Linked DNA regions of Homo sapiens. The protein of the gene in region 1 purifies or fractionates together with the protein of each later gene. This does not show direct contact. Each region holds a gene or a part of one and is shown on either strand. Other genes may lie near its edges. The genes, in order: PON1, RDH13 and SFXN5.

The links.
Region 2: the proteins of PON1 (region 1) and RDH13 purify together in Homo sapiens (affinity purification with mass spectrometry; 2 studies listed by BioGRID and IntAct, with this or other methods). This does not show direct contact.
Region 3: the proteins of PON1 (region 1) and SFXN5 purify together in Homo sapiens (affinity purification with mass spectrometry; 2 studies listed by BioGRID and IntAct, with this or other methods). This does not show direct contact.

The regions. Positions count from the first base shown.
Region 1 is NC_000007.14:95,300,449-95,307,555, forward strand, and holds part of PON1 (serum paraoxonase/arylesterase 1), read right to left. Parts: intron 5,919-7,107; coding exon 5,837-5,918; intron 1,886-5,836; coding exon 1,757-1,885; intron 1-1,756. UniProt on the Homo sapiens protein: Hydrolyzes the toxic metabolites of a variety of organophosphorus insecticides. Capable of hydrolyzing a broad spectrum of organophosphate substrates and lactones, and a number of aromatic carboxylic acid esters.
Region 2 is NC_000019.10:55,060,053-55,067,690, forward strand, and holds the start of RDH13 (retinol dehydrogenase 13 isoform 1 precursor), read right to left. Parts: upstream 3,097-7,638; 5' UTR 2,981-3,096; coding exon 2,916-2,980; intron 1-2,915. UniProt on the Homo sapiens protein: Retinol dehydrogenase with a clear preference for NADP. Oxidizes all-trans-retinol, but seems to reduce all-trans-retinal with much higher efficiency. Has no activity toward steroids.
Region 3 is NC_000002.12:73,061,630-73,068,736, forward strand, and holds part of SFXN5 (sideroflexin-5), read right to left. Parts: intron 1-7,107. UniProt on the Homo sapiens protein: Mitochondrial amino-acid transporter. Transports citrate. Does not act as a serine transporter: not able to mediate transport of serine into mitochondria.

The DNA.
Region 1 (7,107 bases):
AAAGGGTCTGTGGGAACGTTCAAAATGACCTCTTAAAAACAGCTGGCACCAAAGACAGATGTCTTAGGAAGTTGCCATAGCATTAACATGTAGTAGTTACAGGGAAATAGTTGATGGTACACCTTGGCTTAGCTAAGCTTCTTGTTAATAAAACTAAATCACTCATCTAGGGGCAGTGCATTGGATAAGGAATTGTTACTACTTTTTGCTACTCCTTTGCAGATCAATCATTAGAAATGAAGTATTTTCTCCAGAACAACAAACCAAGTCCATGCTATAGCAAATGACCCAAGGTTACTAAATGAGCTAACAAGCAAGAACAAATTAGAATCTAACATTCTGCTCAGTTCTGAGCACTGAACACTCCACAGCATACATTTCTTCAATTCTATTAAACATACCATTCAGCAACCCTAATAGCTAAAAACTAGCAAAAGGCACAAAGGGTTGCCATTAAACATGATCACAATTGTCCTGCAAACCTAGAGATAAAAGGTAAGAGAGCCATAATGTAAATGGAAATACACATTTGTTTCTTTTTTTTTTAACCCAAGAGATACGGGCTTTAACACTTTTTTTTTTCCTGTTGGGCAGGTGAAATGGACTCTTAAAACTGAGCTTTAACAATACACAGCAGTAGACAAATATGTCAAGATGATATCATATATATGATGTAAGTAATAAGTATCCTTAGTAGATACTGAAAACTCAGTAAATGTGCAAATACCTATATTGAAGTAGGTTGCAAATTCTTACTTGTACCCAAAATAGTTCACTGAATAAAGACCGTGGACAAAAAATGGGACCTTTGAGTACTGTAACTAAGGTGGAAGATGAGATCTTCTAAGCCAGAATAATTCCAGCTATTTATCTTGCCACCTGCAGGAAGATCTAGAGAGGCTGGCCAGTGTGCTCCAGGACTGGTCCATTGCATGGACCTGTGCGTATACCGCCACACAGGAAGGGGGAGTTGAATAGGAAGGCAGGTAATGAATGATTAAACCATAGCAGTATGGCATCATTATGTTCTTTGAGGATCCCTTAACCAGAGGCCAAGTTCCTGTCAGGCAACCCTCTCCACCCACCACCGTCTACCTGTTCTGGCTTCTGGTATTCATTTCCTCCCTCCCTTGCTAGCCCTGGGGTACTGCATTATAACTCTGTTGATTACCCTACACTGTGTCCACACATTTTGTGTATAGTCCGTTGATTAAACTCCCCTCAAATTATCCAATTTAAGTGTGCCATGTGTTTCTTGCCTAGACTCTGACTAAAGCACCTCCAAAAGCCTTCATTTCTGATCATTTGGATCATCTATCCATGTCCCCCCTTTTATTTGCACATAGAATTGAGAATTGGCCGGGCACGGTGGCTCACGCCTGTAATCCCGGCACTTTGGGAGGCCGAGGCGGGTGGATCACAAGGTCAGCAGATCAAGACCATCCTGGCCAACAGGATGAAACCCTGTCTCTACTAAAAAAAAAAAAAAATACAAAAAATTAGCCAGGCATGGTGGCATGCGCCTGTGGTCCCAACTACTTGGGAGGCTGAGGCAGGAGAATGGTGTGAACCCGGGAGGCGGAGCTTGCAGTGAGCCAAGATTGCGCCACTGCACTCCAGCCTGGGCGACAGAGCGATACTCTGTCACAAAAAAAAAAAAAAAAAAAAAAAAACCAAGAATTGAGAATTATGTTGTCAACTGAAAAAACAGTAGCTGGGAATAAAGTCACTTATCTGGTTCATTTTTAAAACTTACCTCTGATGCAGGAGGATTCTCTGAGTCATAGAAGAAGATTTTCATGCCATTGGGATGGCATCCAACCCAAAGGTCTCCTGTCTCAGGATCCACAGATATGTTATCCACGAGGGTATTAAAGTCAAGGGACTTAAAAGATTAAAAACAAGAAAAGAACAAGACATAAAGTAAAACACAATTGTGATGGAGCAAAATATATCAGAGAAAAGTTGCCTCTTGTCCTTGGTCACCACGCTGCTGCTTCCAAGGATACAATTCTGCCCCATTTCAATAAGACTCACAAAATTTCTCTGACCTTTCATCTATGCTAGTATTTTGTCAGTTTCCAGGGCAGAATTGGGTAGGGTGAAGATACAGAAAGCCAAGAAAGACTGTTAAAAGTTAGACAAAATCATTTGTACCAACATCTGTGCATGAACCTAAAACTGAAAAAAAAAAGAAGTTTTCGGTGCATCATAAAACATCTCCTTCTAAAATGGCATGTGGTAATGATATTTTTATAAGCATTCAGAAAACAACCAGGAAATGTAGATTCTTTCTCAGAAGAATATCAATGAAATGTGGACTCTTTAATGGCTAATCATAGGCTGTGCAGCCAGAGAAGAAATGATCACCCAGGGTCTCATTTTTGCCTTGTAGTTGAGGAAAAGTTTGTTCTTTAGTTTCCTGATGTTGTTCAACTCCCCGTTCTTCTGCTGTTTATTCTCTAAATATAAGTTGCAAGCATTTGATGACTGCACAGATTGCTGTCGAGGCTTTGTACAAGGATCATAAATAATACCAATGATTCTTAATTCCACCATTCATCATCTTGGCTGCCTTCTACTGGGGAGAAATCCCATCTATTTGTTTACCTCTAATTCTCAGTTGGAGAAATAATATCTACCATGTACCTCAGAGGCCAGCATACCTCAGTGCCCAGAGAACCTGTAAATAACTGGTCATGACTCATTGAAAAAGCCAGGGCATAAGCAGACAGCTGCAGAAAACCAACGTTTCCCTGTGCCTCCTACTCAAAATGAGAGCTGTTCCTCACATGCCCAAGGAGGGATTAGAGGGCTCAAGCATCATGGCAGAGCCTCAGTCTCGCCACCATGCAGAGCCATCAGTCTTTCTTACCCCAGAGACAGGCAAGACAGGCGGCTCCATGCTTGCTTTCTCCATCCCTAAACCCCTGTCCATCCCAGTGTCAGCACACCACTCTGATACCATAATGTCTTTGAATGAGGAAAATGTTTGTTTCAGGGCTTTGCTCTTATCTTTGGAAGCAGTACAGCCAATTGGTGAATTCCACGGCAGATGAAACCTGAGATGAGAGTGGGAGTGGGAGAAGGACACAGAAACCTGGGGTCCCATTCATTCAAGACACAATTACTGAGCTCCTACATGAGCTCTGCAAGGAACGCAACACCTGGAGAGCACCAGGTACCCAGCAGACACAGCTCATGCCATGGAAGTGCTGACAGTCTAGCAGGGAGCCTGTTCTGAGTCCAGCAATGAACTCTTTGCCTTGCAAATAAATAATTCCTCTCCATGCTAACTCATGCAAGACCCCTGCGTATCACATCTCACACTCCCACAAAGGCAACTCGAAAAATTCGCATTCCTTGGTCAAGAAAACATAATAAATTATTCTCTTTGGGAAAAACAGAGTATTCTCTGTTAACAAATATTCCAGGTTTTTGCGCATTGAGGTTCATTGAAGTGTGACTAATTCATTGACTAAGTCCTGGAATCTTTTTTTGGAGAGAGGAGAGAATTATTTCTATCGTGGTAAAATATATAAAAATTTGACATTTTAACCATTTTTAAGTGTAAAACTCAGTGGCATTAAGTATATTCACAATGTTGTGCAACCATCATCACCATCCCTCTCCAGAACTTTTAATCAGCCCCAAATAGAAATCCTGTACCCATTAAACAATAGCTCCCTATTCTTCTCTCCCCCAAGTTCCTAGCAATCACCATTCTATTCTATTTTCTGTCTCCATGAATTTGCCTGTTCTAGGTACTTCCTATTAGTAAATCGTACAATATTTATCCTTTTGTTGCTGGCTTATGTCATTTAGCATCATGTTTTTCAAGGCTTATCCATGTTGTAGCAGGTATCAGAACTTCATTCCTTTTTTTTTTTTTTTTTTTTTTTAGATGGCGTTTTGCTCTTGTTGCCCAGACTGGAGTACAATGGTGTGATCTCAGCTCACTGCAACCTCCGCCTCCCAGGTTCAAGTGATTCTCCTGCCTCAGTCTCCCAGGTAGCTGGGATTATAGGCATGTGCCACCATGTCTGGCTAATTTTTTGTACCTTTAGTAGAGACGGGGTTTCACCATATTGGCCAGGCTGGTCTTGAACTCTTGACCTCGTGATCCACCCACCTCAGCCTCCCACAGTGCTGGGATTACAGGTGTGAGCCACCGCACCCGGCCAAGAACTTCATTCCTTTTTAAGGCTGAACAATATCCAATTGGACATAAACCCATCCACACCTCATCACAAATTTAAGAATAGCCTCAGCTAGTTTATCAAATTACTTGGCACTCTCGGGCATTAATTAACTGATATTAATTAATACGGTCTTTCAAAAGAAAGAATAATGTGACAATTGATGGAGAACCTTTTTGGGGTTTTCATGATGGGAGACAGGCCTGGTCTGTTGCTGAAACTGGCCTTGCCCTCAGTCTCACCCTGGTGAGAGCAGAGCCTTGACATTCTGTGGTGAATGTCTGTTACATTGGGTTCTATTCTCATAAAATTCTTTAACTTTTGTTTTACAGAAATACCTGTTGTTAAAACCGCAGCTTGTTTTTTATTCCCTTAGCCAGTATGAGCGTGTGAAATTCCATTTTACTTGAGCTAATACCAAACTAGCCCTGCCAGTGATTTTTAATGTCAAACACGATGTTACATTTGATGTTGCTTTAAGGTAATTTTCTCTGAGTGAGGCCCCTCATGACAGTCTCTCAGATGTGCTGACAGGAACAGTCATACAATTGGCGCTGACAGTGCTTCCTGCAGTGGGCGTTTATGGCAGGAAAGCAACGTCTTGCTGTTTTTCGGAGGTAGAGGGCTGCTTTCTTAGGGCTCTAGTTTGCTCTTGGTCTCTTTTTCCTCTCCTTTGTGTTTTCACCCATTTTGACTCCAACCTTCAGATGACCAGAATTGGTGGGGGCAGCAGGTGAATCCCTGAAGCATGCCCAGCCCCACCGCAGTAATTTAACAAGTATTTGTTAAGTGCCAACTAGTCAATGTGAATTGTACCAGAAGCAAATAGAAAAACAGCCTGTCCTTGTGGAGCTTACACCCTAGTTGGGGAATCAGGTAATAAAGGGTATGAATAAAATATATAGTATGTTAGCAATACGTGCTGAATGGAAAAATAAAGCAGGAAAGGCGAGGGAAAATACGTAGCGGGAGGGAGCAGTTCCAGGTTTTGAAGATCGAGGTGACGTTTTAGTAAAAATGAAAGGAGATGAAGGAGGGGGTCATGGAGATCTGGAGGAAGGTTTCTCCTCCTAGCAGAGGGAATGGTGCCCCGTTCTGAGACAGTGGCAGGAGACGTGGGGCAGGGACACAATGGTTGGAGGTAAAGGCAGAGAGGTGAGGGGCAGCCAGGTCACCTAGCAGCCATCGTGAGCACGTGGACTTCATAAACATTGTGGAGAGCAGCCCTGCATAAAGTACAATTTGAGGCTATTTCTTGGCTGTTCCATCAACATAGAGGAAAAAAGAGAAAGAAAAGGGAGGAGAGGGAAGGAAGGTGGAGGAGAGGGAGATCAGAAGAAAGGCAGGAAGGGAGGGATGGAAGGAGGATCTGGGAACACAATGCCAAGCTTAAAATTTGCTAGAGCAGAAAGAATGCAAGGTTCACGGGTAAGAGGTGGGGTTTGCTGTTTGCCACTCTGCAGTTGAGTAAAAATGAACAACAAACACATAACCAAGCTAATGACTCTTAATAAAGGAGTGAAAAATTGGTTCTCACCCACCCCAATTAAGCAGTCCTTTTTTCTTCACATTTAATTTCACAAATCAATTAGAATCTAATTATCACTCTGCAGACTTACAGTGTTAATACGTCTTACCTTCAATGGAGTTAAAGTCCAATTAGCATGCTTTTCATACACATGAATCTTATGAGCCAGCAACTCAGCTATATAGACATACCTTCAAAGAAGAAAGAGCTACATCAAAGTACTAGAAGTAACACAACTTGAGAGATTAAGATGAAGTTGTAATACCTATTCATAGGGAAGAACTTTGCTTAAGGAATGGAAAATGGAACCCACCTCAAACACACCAAATTCTGAAAGAACTCAGTGAGTTTACAGTGACAGAGGGGTTTAATCTCTGAAAAGTTGTTTCTGAAGGAGGGGACATAGTTGTCCTTATCAGTATGGGAGGAACTTAGCCCTAACACTAACTTTTAGTATCTGGGAGTAAAATGCATTACAGCGTTTCTCTTTTGGTTTGACAATTTAGTGTCAAGGCCCAGGTTCTGCATTTCAGGGGCTAGTGAGTTCTCTCTCGGGAAAGTTGCAGGAAAGCCCTTGGACAACAGCCCCTTGTTTTAATCCAGAGAAAATATGAGAGAAGAAAAGCTGCTTGGCTTGGATCAAGAGAAGTCTTCCTCCTCTTCTGCCCTGAGTGTGGTCCTGACCCTGTGGCTTTAGTCATACCCCACAAAGATCTGGGGTTAGTCTAAGCACTGTGCATCCCCCCAACAAAAAAAAGAAATTACTGCTCAATTATCTTCTATTTTTTGAAAACTGGTCTATGATATGAATAATTAAAAGCTGTCCCTGTCCCTGTTGCTCTCACTTGCTTGCTTGCTTGCTTTTTCTTTTCTTTCTTTCTTTCTTTTTTTTTTTTTTAAAAAAAAACAGAGTCTTGCTCTGTCACCCACGCTGGAGTGCAGTGGTGCAATCTCAGCTCACTGCAACCTCCACCTCCCAGGTTCAAGCAATTCTCCTGCCTGGCCTCCCTGGTAGCTGGGATTACAGGAGTGCGCCACCACGCCTGGCTAATTTTTGTATTTTTAGTAGAGATGGGGTTTCGCCATGATGGCCAGGCTGGTCTATGACCTCAGGTGATCCACCCACCTTGGCCTCCCGAAGTGCTAGGATTACAGGCATGAACCACCACACCTGGCCCCTGTTGCTTTCTCTAAGCATATGTTACGGACTCTAAAATCCTTGATGATGACACAAGATGAGAAAGGGCATATATGTGGATGGATATAGATATTTCATGTATATACCAATGCTACCCAAAATGCAGTCTCCAGACCAATGTTGGTTTGCAAATTGTTTGTTATAGCTCACCATGAGATAACATTATAAATCAAATACATCAC
Region 2 (7,638 bases), on another chromosome or scaffold:
CGTGGGATAGTCTGAAATATGGCCTCGTGGGATGAGAAAGACCTGACCGTCCCCCAGCCCAACACCCGTAAAGGGTCTGTGCTGAGGTGGATTGGTAAAAGAGGAAAGCCTCTTGCAGTTGAGAGAGAGGAAGGCCACTGTCTCCTGCCTGACCCTGGGAACTGAATGTCTCGGTATAAAACCTGATTGTACATTTGTTCAATTCTGAGACAGGAGAAAAGCCGCCCTATGGCGGGAGGCGAGACATGTTTACAGCAATGCTGCCTTGTTATTCTTTACTCCGCTGAGATGTTTGGGTGGAGAGAAACATCAATCTGGCCTACGTGCACGTCCAGGCATAGTACCTTCCCTTGAACTTAATTATGTCATAGATTCTTTTGCTCACATGGTTTTTGCTGACCTCATTATCACCCTGCTCTCCTACTACATTCCTTTTTGCTGAAATAATGAAGATAATAATCAGTAAAAACTGAGGGAACTCAGAGGCCGGTGCCGGTGCAGGTCCTTGGTATGCTGAGCGCCGGTCCCCTGGGCCCACTGTTGTTTCTCTATACTTTGTGTCTTATTTCTTTTCTCAGTCTCTCGTCCCACCCAACTAGAAATACCCACAGGTGTGGAGGGGCAGGCCACCCCTTCACAGGCGTGGTGGTGCACACCTGTAATCTCAGCTACTCAGGGGGCTGAGGCACGAGAATTGCTTGAACCTGGAAGGCGGAGGTTGCAGTGAGTCGAAATGGTGCCAGCCTGGGCAACAGAGCGAGACTCTGTCTCAAAAAAATTTAAATTTAAATTTAAAATGCCCGCTGCACGAGATTCCCAAGGCTGCTGTACGCATTACCACAGACTTAGTGGCTTAAAACCACATAAGTGCATCCTCCTCCAGTTCGGCAGGTCAAGAGTCCAAAACATGTCTCACTGGAATAAATCAAGGTATTGGTAGAGTCAGGTTCCTTCTGGAGGCTCTAGGGAAGAATCCACTTCCAGCTCCTACAGACCGCCACATTCCTCCACTCTTGGCCCCGCCTCCATCTTCAACCTGCATCCTCACTGGAACCTCTCCTTTATTTATTTATTTATTTACTTATTTATTTTTGAGACAGAGTCTCGCTCTGTCGCCCAGGCTGGAGTGCAGTGGCTCAATCTCAGCTCACTGTAACCTTCGCCTCACAGGTTCAAGCGATTCTCCTGCCTTAGCCTCCTGAGTGGCTGGGATTACAGGCACATGCCACCACACCTGGCTAATTTCTTTTGTATTTTTAGTAGAGACAGAGTTTTACCACGTTGGTCAGGCTGGTCTCGAACTCCTGACCTTGTGATCCGCCTGCCTTGGCCTCCCAAAGTGCTGCGATTACAGGCGTGAGCCACCACACCCAACAACCTCTCCTTCTATCTTCCATCTCCCCTCTGACTGAGCCTCCTGCTCCCTCTTATAAGGACCCTATAAGACTACAAGGCAGGACCGGCACAGTGCCTCACACCTGTAATCCCAGCACTTTGGGAGGCCAAGACAGGAGGATCACTTGAGGTCAGGAGTTCGAGACCAGCCATGGCCAACATGCTGACACCCCATCTCTACTAAAAATACAAAAATTAGCAGGGCTTGGTGGTGCACGCCTGTAGAGTCAGCTACTCGGGAGGCTGAAGTGGGAGGACCACCTGAGCCCAGGGAGGGTGAGGCTGCAGTGAGCTGTGACAGCATGACTGCACTCCAGCCTGGGTGACAGAGAGACCCTGTCTCCAAAAAAAAAAAAAGACTACATGATAATCATAAGATCCTTCACTTGGCCGGGCACGGTGGCTCACGCCTGTAACCCCAGCACTTTGGGAGGCCAAGGTGGCCAGATCCCCTTTGGTCGGGAGCTCAAGACCAGCCTGACCAACATGGAGAAACCTCGTCTCTACTAAAAATACAAAATTAGACAGGCGTGGTGGCACATGCCTGTAATCCCAGCTACTCAGGAGGCTGAGGCCGGACAATCGCTTGAACCCGGGAGGTGGAGGTTGTGGTGAGCCGAGGTCGTGCCATTGCACTCCAGCCTGGGCAACAACAGCGAAACTCTGTCTCAAAAAAAAAAAAGATGCTTCACTTAACACATCAGCGAGAACCTCTGACACGTGAGGTAATGTCGTCACACCTTCCGAGGATTAGGACGTGGACCCCTCTACGGAGTCACGACTCTGCCCACCACACCCATGTCCCACAGAGGCTAACGCTGGCAACAAGATAGTGTCCAGCAACAGGAGGCTGAGCAGGTAAACAGCACTGCACCCACAGGAGAGAAGGGCACCATGCAATACAGTGGCCACCAGCCACAGAGGCTAATTTTTAAGAAAGTTTAAATTAAGTAGGCTGGGCGAGGTGGCTCACGTCTGTAATCCCAGCACTTTGGAGGCCGAGGCAGGCGGATCACCTGAGGGCAGGTGTTTGAGACCAGCCTGGCCAACATGGCAAAACCCCGTCTCTGCGAAAAATACAAAAATTAGCCGGGCGTGGTGGCGCACGTGTGATCTCAGCTCCTGGGGACGCCAAGGTGGGAGGATCACCTGAGCCCAGGAGGTCAAGGCTGCAGTGAGCCAAGATCGCGCCACTGCACTCCAGCCTGGGCGACAGAGCCAGATTCTGCCTTTAAAAATAAACGAACAAATAAATAATACAAAACAACAAAATAAAGAGTTTAAAAGTCTGGAAGGAAAGCAACATTTACAAGGGCCCAGGCTCGCCCTTCCCTCCGAGTGACCTTGGGCCGGTGACCTGGCCGGCCAGAGCGCAGGTTTGCCCCACTCCGGGCGGGCACTGCGGGTCGGGAGCTACGGGGCCTGGACCCGGGTGCGAGGGGCGGGGGTCTCCGCCGCCTTCCCGGCCCCTGCGCTGGGGGCCCGCCTTGACCGCGCACGCGGGGCTAGAATGTACTCACTTGAGCAGCACGGCGGCGCCTGCTACCGTGCCCAGCGCCGACAGCGGCAGCAGGTAGCGGCTCATGCCGGGCCGGGGACAGGCGTCAGGCGTCAGGGGTCGGCGCGGAGCTTGCTGCACACCAGCCGCCTGGGTAGCTCCGAGGAAGAGCGCGCGACGCAGCCACAGGCGAGCGGAGGCGCAGGCGCGGCTGGGCCCGCGTCCGGAACTGGGCTGCGAGGGGCGGGGCGCGGGCGGAGGGGGCGGGGATCCTAGGGACGGGACCTATGAGCATCGGTCCTGAGCGCTGTCACAGCTGGGATTGGTGGTTTCAGGAGCCTGTGGGCGTGGCTAGTCCGGGGGCGGGGCCTATGGTTTGTTCGAATGACGTCACACTTGCCGCAGCGTATAAGGCGCTACGCAGTTCTGGAGTGAAATAGGTTCGAATCCCACCACTGTCAATTCCAGACTGTGACCCTCTGTGTGTCTTTCAACTATATCAGCCTATTCCCTCATCTGGAAATGTGTGTTTACCTTCTTCATAGACTTTTGGAGATAATTTGAGAATTTCCATGCACAGAAACAAGGATCTAGTAGCCTGTGGGTACCCAAGCTCCTGGGGTCCTGCAGGAGAAGGCGGCTGGGGGCCTGGACTCCTGGGTCTGAGGGAGGAGGGGCTGGGGGCCTGGACTCCTGGGTCCAAGGGAGGAGGGGCTGGGAGCATGGACTTCTGGGTCCGAGGGAGGAGGGCCGGGTGCCTGGACTGCTGAGTCTGAGGGAGGAGGGGCTGGGGGCCTGATTCATTCCCAAATTATCAGAATCTCATCCCCATGTCTGGCCCTGCACAGAGATATCTTCCCTGAACTCTGCCTGAACTACCTTTCTTAGATTGAGTATTGCACACACTCCTGCACTTACCTGTCCATGTTTGTCACCCCCACCAAACCGGGATGCACCTCTGGGCACCTGCTTCCCCTTGCACTGCTCACAGCGAGTGTATCTGATCACCACCTCCTACCCCTGACTGTGCCTGAGGTGCCAGGAGCAGACACCGCTGGAAACAGGGAAGAATTCAACCCAATCTAACTAGGAGTAAGTTTTCTTCCTCATCAGATGAACTGTCATCTTCTTATATGAGCCCTGCCATAATGGAGATTATACAGGCAGGAAGAGCTATTTTAAGACCTTAGTCAATGGCCGGGCACGGTGGCTCACGCCTGTAATCCCAGCACTTTGGGAGGCCGAGACAGATGGATCACGAGGTCAGGAGATTGATACCAGCCTGGCCAACATGGTGAAACCCTGTCTCTACTAAAAATACAAAAATTAGCTGGATGTGGTGGCACTCACCTGTAGTCCCAGCTACTCAGGAGGCCGAAGCAGGAGCATCACTTGAACTCGGGAGGTGGAGGTTGCAGTGAGCCGAGATTGCCCTACTGCATTCCAGCCTGGCGACAGAGTGAAATTCTGTCAAAAAAAAAAAAACCTTAGGCCTGTAGACCTTAAGCTCTCACCATCTCAAACGTATTAAACCAGTTACACAATGCCAAATGCTGTATAAGAGGCACTTGGAGGAGTCAAATTCATAGAGACAGAAAACAGAGTGGTGGCTGCAGGGGGCTGGAGATGAGATTGGGAAGTCACAGGATTTGTTTTTGTTTGTTTGTTTGTTTTGTTTTGTTTTTTGAGAGACAGTCTCACTGTGTCACCCAGGCTGGAGAGCAGTGGGCGATCTCAGCTCACTGCAACCTCTGCCTCCTAGGTTCAAGCGATTCTCCTGCCTCAGCCTCCCGAGTAGCTGGGGCTACAGGCACGTGTCACCACACCCGGCTAATTTTTGTATTTTTAGTAGAGACGGGGTTTCACCATGTTGGCCAGGTTGGTCTCAAACTCCTGACCTCAGGTGATCCACCTGCCTCGGCCACCCAAAGTGCTGGGATTACAGGCATGAGCCACCGCACCCGGCCGGGAAGCTGTTTTTTAATAGATACAGAGTTTGTTTTGCAAAATAAAAAAAAGACCTGAAGGTGGACGGTGGTGATGGTTGCACAACAATGTGAATATACTTAACATCACTGAATTGTACACTTAAAATGGTTAAGATGGTACATTTTACTTTATGCATAGTTTACCAAACTAAAAATAAAGAAAAATTTTAGACTGGGCATGGTGGCTCATGCCTGTAATCCCAGCACTTTGGGAGGCCAAAGTGGAGAATAGTATGAGCCCAGGAGTTTGAGAGCGGCCTGGACAACACGGCAAAACCTTATCTCTACAAAAAATACAAAAATTAGCAGGTTTGGTGGCACGCATCTGCACCCTCAGCTACTTGGGAGGCTGAGGTGGGAGGTCTGCTTGAGCCCAGGAGGTCAAGGCTATGATGAGCTGTGATTGTGCCACTGCACCCCAGGCTGGGTGACAGAGCAAGACCCCATCTCAAAAATAATAATAATAAATGTTTACATTTAATAACATGGGCAATTGGTTCAGATGTTCATTTTCTCAACCTTGAAAAAAAAACAACACTGTTTTTCCCTGTCTTTTTCTCCTTTTCTGTAAACTGAAATCCTAATATCATTGACTTCCAGGACAGAGATCAGCAAACTTTTTCTACAAACAGCCAGATAGTAAATAATTTCAGCTTTGTGATCCACACAGTGGCTGTTGCACCTCCTCTGCCAGAGGAGCTGGGAAGCAGCCACAGATGATGTGAAAACAAGTGAGCACAGCTGTGTTCCCATAAAACTTTATTTATAAAAATAAGCAGTGCGCCACAGTTCGCCAGCTCCTGTTTGAGAGTCTCTCTCCGATGCCCAGGCTGGAGCGCAGTGATGCAATCTCAGCTCACTGCAACCTCTGCCTCCTGGGTTCAAGCGATTCTCCTGCCTCAGCCTCATGAGTAGCTGGGATTACAGGCGCTCGCCGCCACACCTGGCTGATTTTTGTATTTTTAGTAGAGACGGGGTTTCACCATGTTGGCCAGGCTGGTTTTGAACTCCAGGCTTCAGGTGATCCACCTGCCTCAGCCTCCCAAAGTGCTGGGATTACAAAGCGTGAGCCACTGCGCCCAGCTACCTGTCATTGAATTTGGAAGGATGGCATGAAGTCATTCATAACAAGGACTTAATCCATAGTAAGTGCCAGAACATTGCTGGCTGTTAATATGGTTATTATAAAGAGAACAATGCATGCATATTCCTCCTCTGAGGATCTCCTACCTGATTCCCAGACACACCCAAGGGAGTTAGAACATCTGTTTGGACTCCAGGTGGGCTGTCCACGCCTTTACCATTTTCCTGGTTGTTAACATGTTCCTGATCAGCACTGGGTGCTGTCCCAGGTGCTGAGAGGATTCTCCCACAATGCCCTTTGCTTTCCCCATCAGAGGGTTTATGGCACCCAATTCTCATTCACATTCTGTCTCTCCTTTCTCGTTCTTCTCTATCTCTCCTCTCTCTGTCTCCTTTTCTCTTCCTCTCTCCCTCTCTGTCTTCTCTCCCTCTCTCTCCCTCTCTCTTCCTCTCTCTCTTCCTCTGTCCTCTTTTCTCTCTCTCTCTCCCTCTCTCTCACATCTCTCTTTCCCTTCCTTTCTCTTTCCTCTCTCTTCCTCTCTCCCTCTCCCTCCTTCTGTCTTCCTCTATCCCTCTCTTCCTCTTTTTTCTTCCTCTCTTCTTGTCTCTTTCTCTCCTCTCTCTCTCCCTCTTTCTCTTTCTCTCTCTCTTCCTCTCCCTTCCTCTTCCTCTCTCTCCTTCTTTCTTCCTCTCTCTCTTCTTGTGTGTGTCTCTCTCTCTCTGTTCTCTCTCTCCCTCTCCCCCCAACTCTCTTTCCCTACACACATCTTAAGAGGCCTCAGCAGTGTAAGGTAAGTTTAGCGACCCTGTGGCTGTGTAGAGATAAGCAAAGGGGGGCAAGGAGCTCCAGTGGTCCCAGACTCCAGCCATTTGAGTCTTTGCAGCCCAAGCACTGCCCCAGCTTCTTGACAGCCCCAGCCATCACCAAAGGGCACACAGATAAGCTGCCTCCACCAAGGCCTGTGCAGATGGTAGGTTTTTGAGTAAAATAGATATGATCCTTGTCTGAAGCCACTGAGTTTTAGAATAATTTGTTATATGGCCATAGTAACTGGAATGATTGCTGTAGGTTTATTTTATTTTATTCATCCTTGCTGCATGCAACACATGCATGGCTCAGTAACTAGAAGGAAAGAAGAGAAGAAGGGAGGGAGAGGCAGAGGGTGGACAGGAGAGGATGGTAGGAAGGAAAGACAGGAAAGGAGGGTGTTGGTGGCCTTGCCTGCAAGCTGAGCAGACACCACGCAAACAGGTGACCTCCCAGTTAAGATGGAGGGGACTCAGGGCTCAGGAGGGGCAGAAGGTCCCCGTGTCGGAGAGCTGGGCAAGCTTTCTGCAGGAAATGATGGGGATCACGGCCATGTGAGCCGGCAAGATTTCCCTCAGCCAGGGAGGAGACTCCGGGCTGTGGGAACAGCTTAAGCAGAAGGCATGGGACAGGAATGCATATGAGAGATATTGTGGGAGGAGGGAGGGCTGCCTGGGCTGGCATGCAGGGTATGGGAGGGGGTGGAAGGGCTGAGGCGGGAGCCATCAGTAAAAGGACCCAGAGCGCGGCTCCAATGCCATGGTAGGAAGCTTGGCGTTGACTCAGAGGGCGCTGGGTACCGCTGAAGAGTGTTGAGCCAAGGAGGGTCATGTCACGGGCAGATACATGTTTTAGAATTTCTTCTT
Region 3 (7,107 bases), on another chromosome or scaffold:
AATAAAAAGGTAAAAATTATATTTTCAAAAAAGCTAGATGAAAATATACTAAAATGCTAATAGAGATTGCCTCTGGGTAATAGGCTTATGTATGATTTATATTTCCAGATCTTTAAATTGCTTTTGAAATTAAAAAAATCAATATTATACCTAATATACAGAAATGATATTACATTTAAAAATACATATTTAGAGTAAAATGCAAGCCAGTCACAGTGGCTTGCTCCTATAATCCCAGCTACTTGGGAGGCTGAAGTGATAGGATCACTTGAGCCCAGGAGTTTGAGATCAGCCTGGGCAACACAGTGAAACCCCATCTCTACAAAAAATTTTAAAAATTAGCCAGGCATGGTGGTATACACCTGTAGTCCCAGCTACTTAGGAGGCTGAGGTAGGAGGACCACTTCAGCCCAGGAGTTCGAGGCTGCAGTGAGCTATGATCATGCCACTGCACTCCAGCCTGGGTGACAGAGTGAGAGCCTGTCTCCAAAAATAAAATAAAGTAAAACATGAACTGATATTTTAAGTATTATACTTGATTAAGAGCTCCTGAAGGACATGGGCTATTGAATGTTCCTTCCTTATCCTCCCTGGCTCGAAGTCTCCTTACATATCTGGAAGGAAGGGTCTTCTGCCACAGGAATCCATGAGTGGGCTGATGAGCAGCCAATGGCCTCAAGGCTTCTGGGTGGGGTAGAGCTGGGCTGGGCTTTGAAGGGAGGGCAGGATTAGGAAAGGGTAACAGTATGGCAGCTAGTGGTCCAAGGAGGAAAGAGGATGAGCAGGGGAAGAGGAGAGAACCTGGAAGTAGAATGGCCTGAGTGAAGCAACTTCTTGAAGATGGTCCAGCAGAAACTTCAGCCTTTGACTTGTCCTATGGTCTGGCACGGTCTTCATCCTGTCCCAGCCCTGCCAGCCTTCTTGTGTCACTTTCGACCATAGCTACTGGGGGAGACTCCCAGATAAGGCATTTTGCTCCACAGACACCTACAAACTCCTAATGAGCTAGGCTCAGGGGACAGACACCAAATGAACAAGCCCTCAAAGAGCTCACAGCCCATCAAAACAGACTAATAACTATAAACAAGTAACTACAAAACACTGATCAGAGTTTAAATGAAGCATCGCGAAGTATACTGGGGACACACAGAGTTCTTCCTATGTCTTCCTAGTTTAAGTCAAGGAGGTGTCCCAGAGGAGCTGGGACCAAGGGATGGATGAGTTTACCTAGCAGAGGAGGGTATATGCAAGAGGATGAAAGCATAAAGCTTAGGATCAGAAGCTGCACCAGACTCCTGTGGTCTCTTCATTCATTCATCATTCAACCCACTACCGAGGATCTACTGTGTGCCCAGCACTGTGCTAGGTCCTGGAGGTAGCAAGGCTGACCGACTGTGGGGAAATGAGGAAGAGCAGCCACAGATGATGCCTCACTTTCTAGTGAGACATGAATGTTTGTTAACCAGAATAGGGACAGGAAGAAGCATACTGATTAAGTGGAAAGAAGATAAAAACTCTGTATTGGTCATATCAGTCTGAGATATTTAAAGGGACTTCCAGATATAATTTTTCAGCAAACATTTGGACTGAGATTCAAGAAAGAGACTCTGAATTGGAAATGTCAGGTACAGATTGCCCTAAGACCCCCACCCCACCCACTATAGAGACAAACCTATAGTCTGACCAAGTCAGATTTACTGACTCACTCAACAAAGAAAAGCACCACAGCAGAGGAATTATGGGGTGCCTTGCCAAACAAAGAAAAATATTTGGTATATAATTTAAGGAAGATAGAGTAAAATGTAAATGAAGCAGTGCTTCAATAGGCTCCAAGCAAAGCAAGACTGTGTGAAAAGGAGTCATCATAGGTCTGGACCAACCACTCAGGGTCTTGTTTCCTTAAAAACTATAAAGTTAAGATTAATGAGAAACGTTGTGACCAGAAACCCCTTATTTGCAGCTATGGGTTGATTCTCCGAGGCAAAGTGACTTAGACCTGCCAATCAAGAGGTAGATGGTTCATTCCTAATGATATGACTTAAACAGCAAAGTTCCTGGCAGTCTAGGACCTTATAGAGTGAGACATGAGTATGAAAGAGGTGGTTACTGGAAGAAGGTTGTTCGATACTTTATAGATCCTGTGGGTCCTCGTGAGAAACATTCTTTCTTTGCAGCTGGCTCTGTGTCTGTCCTCCCTGTCTGATGAATGGCAAGGAAGGTTATACTTTCTCAGTCTCAGTTCATTTTTATTTTCTCAATAGTTCAAAATGTATAGCCTCCCTCCCAAATTCAGCTCCCATCTTTACCCAATCGCACAATCGGTGGATGTTTTTCCTCCCCTTTTTCTTTACTGGAAGAATGAGTCAGCCAAGTGATTCCTTCTCTTTCCCTTCATAAGAAAGGTGAGTCAGCTAATTCTCAGCAGGAGCCAGGGCCTACAGCAGCAGCTGCCTTCCCACCTCCACCAGCCAGCTCTCTCCCATCTGCAAGCCCCCCAGGGAAGAGCAGGCCTTGGGAGCAGCAGCAGAGGGCAAAGATCCCAGAAGAAGCTGACACCGCCCCGCAACTACACACACCAGACCTCCAAATTACTGCTCTTCGATTAGGAATAATATACTCGCTGAACCTACAGCCCAAAGCAGAAAGGCTGGGCCAGCCCAGTAGTCCTGAATCAGCTGCACCCTGAACCACCTGGGTACTTCAAAAACCAGGCCATACACCCAGGGATTCTGATTCTATTGCTCTGGGTGTGGCCTCCAGGCATCAGTGTCTATTTTAAAACCTGCCCAGTGTGACTCTTGGAAATTATGACCCCTCTCCACTGCACAAACCAGCCCAGGAGCAGCACTAGAAAAAACTCACTGTCTCGCCTATAGGAAGTAAATGATTAAAATATATAACCACCTGCAAGGTACTGTGATTTTAGAACTTTATTTCAAGCAAACTATGAGACATATCCCCCCTGCCTCCCAACTCTCAGCCCACACAAATCTCCCAACCTTGAAGTGAAGAAAGCATTTGTCTGCCCAGCAAGCTCTCCATACCCCAGAGGGAGCCCTGTGCAACCAGCCTGCTCTGCCCCACTAGGCCTTGGTCCCCAGCACACTCATACCCCCAGTCATCTCAGCAGATAAGTGAGACTTCCAAAGGAGCAAGGAATTTTTGTTTTATTTTTGAGACACAGTCTCACTTTGTCACCCAGGCTGGAGTGCAGTGGCACGATCATAGCTCACTACAACCTCCACTTCCTGGACTCGGGTGATTCTCCCACCTCACCCTCTAGAGTGGCTGGGACTACAAGCATGTGTCACCACACCTGGATAATTTTTATATTTTTTGTAGAGACGGGGTTTCGCCATGTTGCCTGGACTGGTCTCAAACTTCTGGGATCAAGCAATCTGCCCACCTTGGCCTCTCAAAGTGCTGGCATTACAAGCATGAGCCACCACACCTCGCCAGAAGTTGTTAAAAAACTTCTTCCCTTCTTTCTGAGACAGGGTCTCACTCTGTTGCCCAGCTGGAGTGCAGTTGTGTGATCATAGCTCACTGCAGCCTCAGACTTCTGGACTCAAGGGATCCTCCTGCCCCAGCCTCCCAAGTAGCTGGGACTACAGGTGCATGCTACCACGCCGAGCTAGTTTTTCAATTTTTTGTAGACATGGGGTCTCACTATGTTGTCCAGGCTGGTCTCAAGCTCCTGGCCTCAAGCAATCCTCCTGCCTTGGCCTCTCGAAGTGCTGGGATTACAGGCATGAGCCAACTGCACCTGGACAACAATTTTTTTTTTTGAGATAGAGTTTCGCTCTTGTTGCCCAGGCTGGAGTGCAATGGTGCAATCTCGGCTCACTGCAACCTCTGCCTCCCGGGTTCAAGCAATTCTCCTGCTTCAGTCCTGAGTAGCTGGGATTATAGGCGCCTGCCACCATGCTCACATAATTTTTGTATTTTGTAGAGACAGGGTTTTGCCATGTTGGCCAGGCTGGTCTTGAACTCCTGACCTCAAGTGATCTGCCCGCCTTGGCCTCCCAGAGTGCTGGGATTACAGGCATGAGTCACTGTGCCTGGCCATGTGGGGGAATCTTGAAGGGCTATTTTTTGTATTTTTTAGTAGAGACAGGTTTCACCATGTTGGCCAGGCTGATCTCGAACTCCTGTCATCAAGTGATCTGCCCGCCTTAGCCTCCCAAAGTGCTGGGATTACAAGCATGAGCCACCGCGCCTGGTCCTGGACAACAATTTATTTACAGATGGACTGAAACACAAATGGGAGAAAGTATGTGTGTTTGTTTCCTGTCCTGGGGCCCCAACATGGCAAACATGGTGTCTGGGCCGGAAGGAAAAACAGTGAGTTCAGGAGAGGAAATGACCAGAAAAGGAAGAGGAAAGGAAGCAAAGCAGGTCTCAGAGGTTCCCTGGGTGCTGTGCTGTCATCTCCTCCCTTTCACTAGGCAGCTGGAGTAGTGGTTAAATGCATAGACTTTAAGTTTACAGGAGAAACAAGGGATAAAGGAACATGCTAACCACTACCACAGAGATGCCATCAGCAACATTGAGAAGGTGGGGAATTCTACAGGGACGAACAACTGCTTCTTCAATAGGAAGGGAAAAAAGGAAGACAGAACTAACAGATTAAAAGATACAAAAGAGGCCGGGTGTGGTAGCTCACGCCTGTAACCCCAGCACTTTGGGAGGCCGAGGCGGGTGGATCACCTGAGGTCAGGAGTTTGAGACCAGCCTGGCCAACATGGTGAAACCCCATCTCTACTAAAAATACAAAAATTAGCAAGGCATGGTGGCATGCGCCCGTAATCCCAGCTACTCAGGAGGCTAAGGCAGGAGAATCACTTGAACCCGGGAGGCGGAGGTTGCAGTGAGCTGACATCATGCCACTGCACTCCAGCCTGGGCGACAGAGAGAGACTCTGTCTCCAAAAAAAAAAAATAAAAGATACAAAAGAGAAATACCCAAAGGTAATAATATGTGGGACTTATGGGATCCTGATTCAAACAAATCAACTACAAATAAATTAAGTGATGGTCAGGGAAATATGAATAGCGACTGGTTACTTGATGATATTAAGAATTAATGGGCCAGGCATGGTGGCTCATGCCTGTAAATCCCAGCACTTTGGGAGGGCCAGGCAGAACAATCATTAGAGGCCAGGGGTTTGATACCAGCCTCAGCAAAATAGCAAGACACCTGTCTCTACAAAAAAAAAGAAAAGAAAAGAAAAAACAGAAAGAAAACAAACAAACAAAAAATACATATAGCCACGCATGGTGGCACACCCCTGTAGTTCCAGCTACTCTGGAGGTAGAGGCCAGAGGATTGCTTGAGCCCAGGCGCTCAAGGCTGCAGTGAGCCATTAATTACTGTTCCACTGTACTCTATTGTGGGTGACAGACAGAAACCCTGTCTCTAAAAAAAAAGAAAAAACAAATAATGATTTTAGGTGTGTTAAGGACATGGTTATGTTAAACAAATCAAAAAACCCTCCAATATCATGTGATAAAGAGAGCATTTCACCTCTGTGATATTCTTACCTCAAAACCCAAAAGAAAGACATTAGGCAACCCAAGTTGAGGGACACTCTATAAAATATCTTCCAAAATTGTCAAGGTCATCAAAAACAAGCAAAGTCTGAGAAACTATCCCAGGTACTATGACTGCCGCAGACCAGAGGAGGCTAAAGAGACATGATGACTAAATGTAACATGTTCCTGGATGGGATCCTGGGACAGAAAGGAGACATTAGTGTAAAAAAAAGTAGTAAAATTCAATGAAGTCTGGAGTGTAGTTAACGATAATGTACCAATGTTAGTTTCTTAGTTTTGAAAAATGTACTGTGGCAATGCAAGATGATAACAGAGGACAATGGGTGAGGGCTAGGCAGGAATTGTTTGTTGTCTTTTGACTTCTCTAAAATTATTCCAAAATAAAAAAATTTTTAAAAAGCTAACCAAAGAGTCCTTATTTTTTAGAGATACCTACTAGTGGGTTCAATGAAATGATGGGATGTTTGGCCTTTGCTTCAGAGTAATTCATTGATTGGGTTGTGGGGGGTGGGTGCATAGATGAAACAAGGCCGGCTTTAAGTTGGCAACTGTTGAAGCTGGATGATGGGTGCATAGGGGTTTACTGACAACTGTCTCCAGATTAGTATGTTTGTAAACTTCCATAATAAAAAGTTGACAACAAACCAACAAACAAACATGAACTCTGGAGACAGACTGCCTGGGAATTTACTTAATCTGTTTGTGTGCTGTAGTTTTCTTACCCATAAATTGGAGATCATTGCACCTGCTTCACAGGGTTGTTGTGAAAATTCAGTAAGTCAATACACAAAAAGGCTGGAATGATGCTTGGCTATCGTCACCATCTTATGGGGAGAAAGATGGTCACAGACCACCAACACTCATCACCCTTTCTTCACACTCTGACCCTCCACACCCTCCACCCTCTTTCTGCCCGTCCTCTTGCACAGGGAGACACTTGAGGGAATAAAGAGGAGTTCTAGAGCGACTCCAGGGAATAAGGAAAGACCTTGGTAACAAATCCTGCAGAAAGCGGTGAGATTAATTGGGGAATAAGGGTCATGTCCCTGGCATGGGTGCTGGGAATGAACCCTGGATTATCAACCACCTTGAAGCAGGCTTCTGTCAGGCCAGCACAAGGTACTATGAGCATATATATTACACAACTATTACATGCCAGGGCAGGACACAGAGATGTGGGCTGGGCCCTAAAGGAGCTCATCAACCCAGTACATATGTAGCCAACCTTTGTGTCTTTAGACTCACCTCCTTAGAGACACCCCAACTCTGGGATGTCTCAGCACTGATGAACCTTACACTGTCAAACATGACACCACTTGCAATTTTGTAAGATCCCTAAGGGACAATTTGGAGAAAAGTTGGTCCACCTCCCCAGTCACAACCTTACAAGTCAATTTAATTCAAGTCCGCAAAGCCCTACTGAATTGTCTCCAGGATATTCATGTATATAACAAATCTTCATTAAGCACCTCTTAACTGCCAGGCACTGTGCTGAGCCTTGGAGAGTCAACAGGGAGTAAAGACAGGCACAGCCCCCACTTCTGCAAAGTCC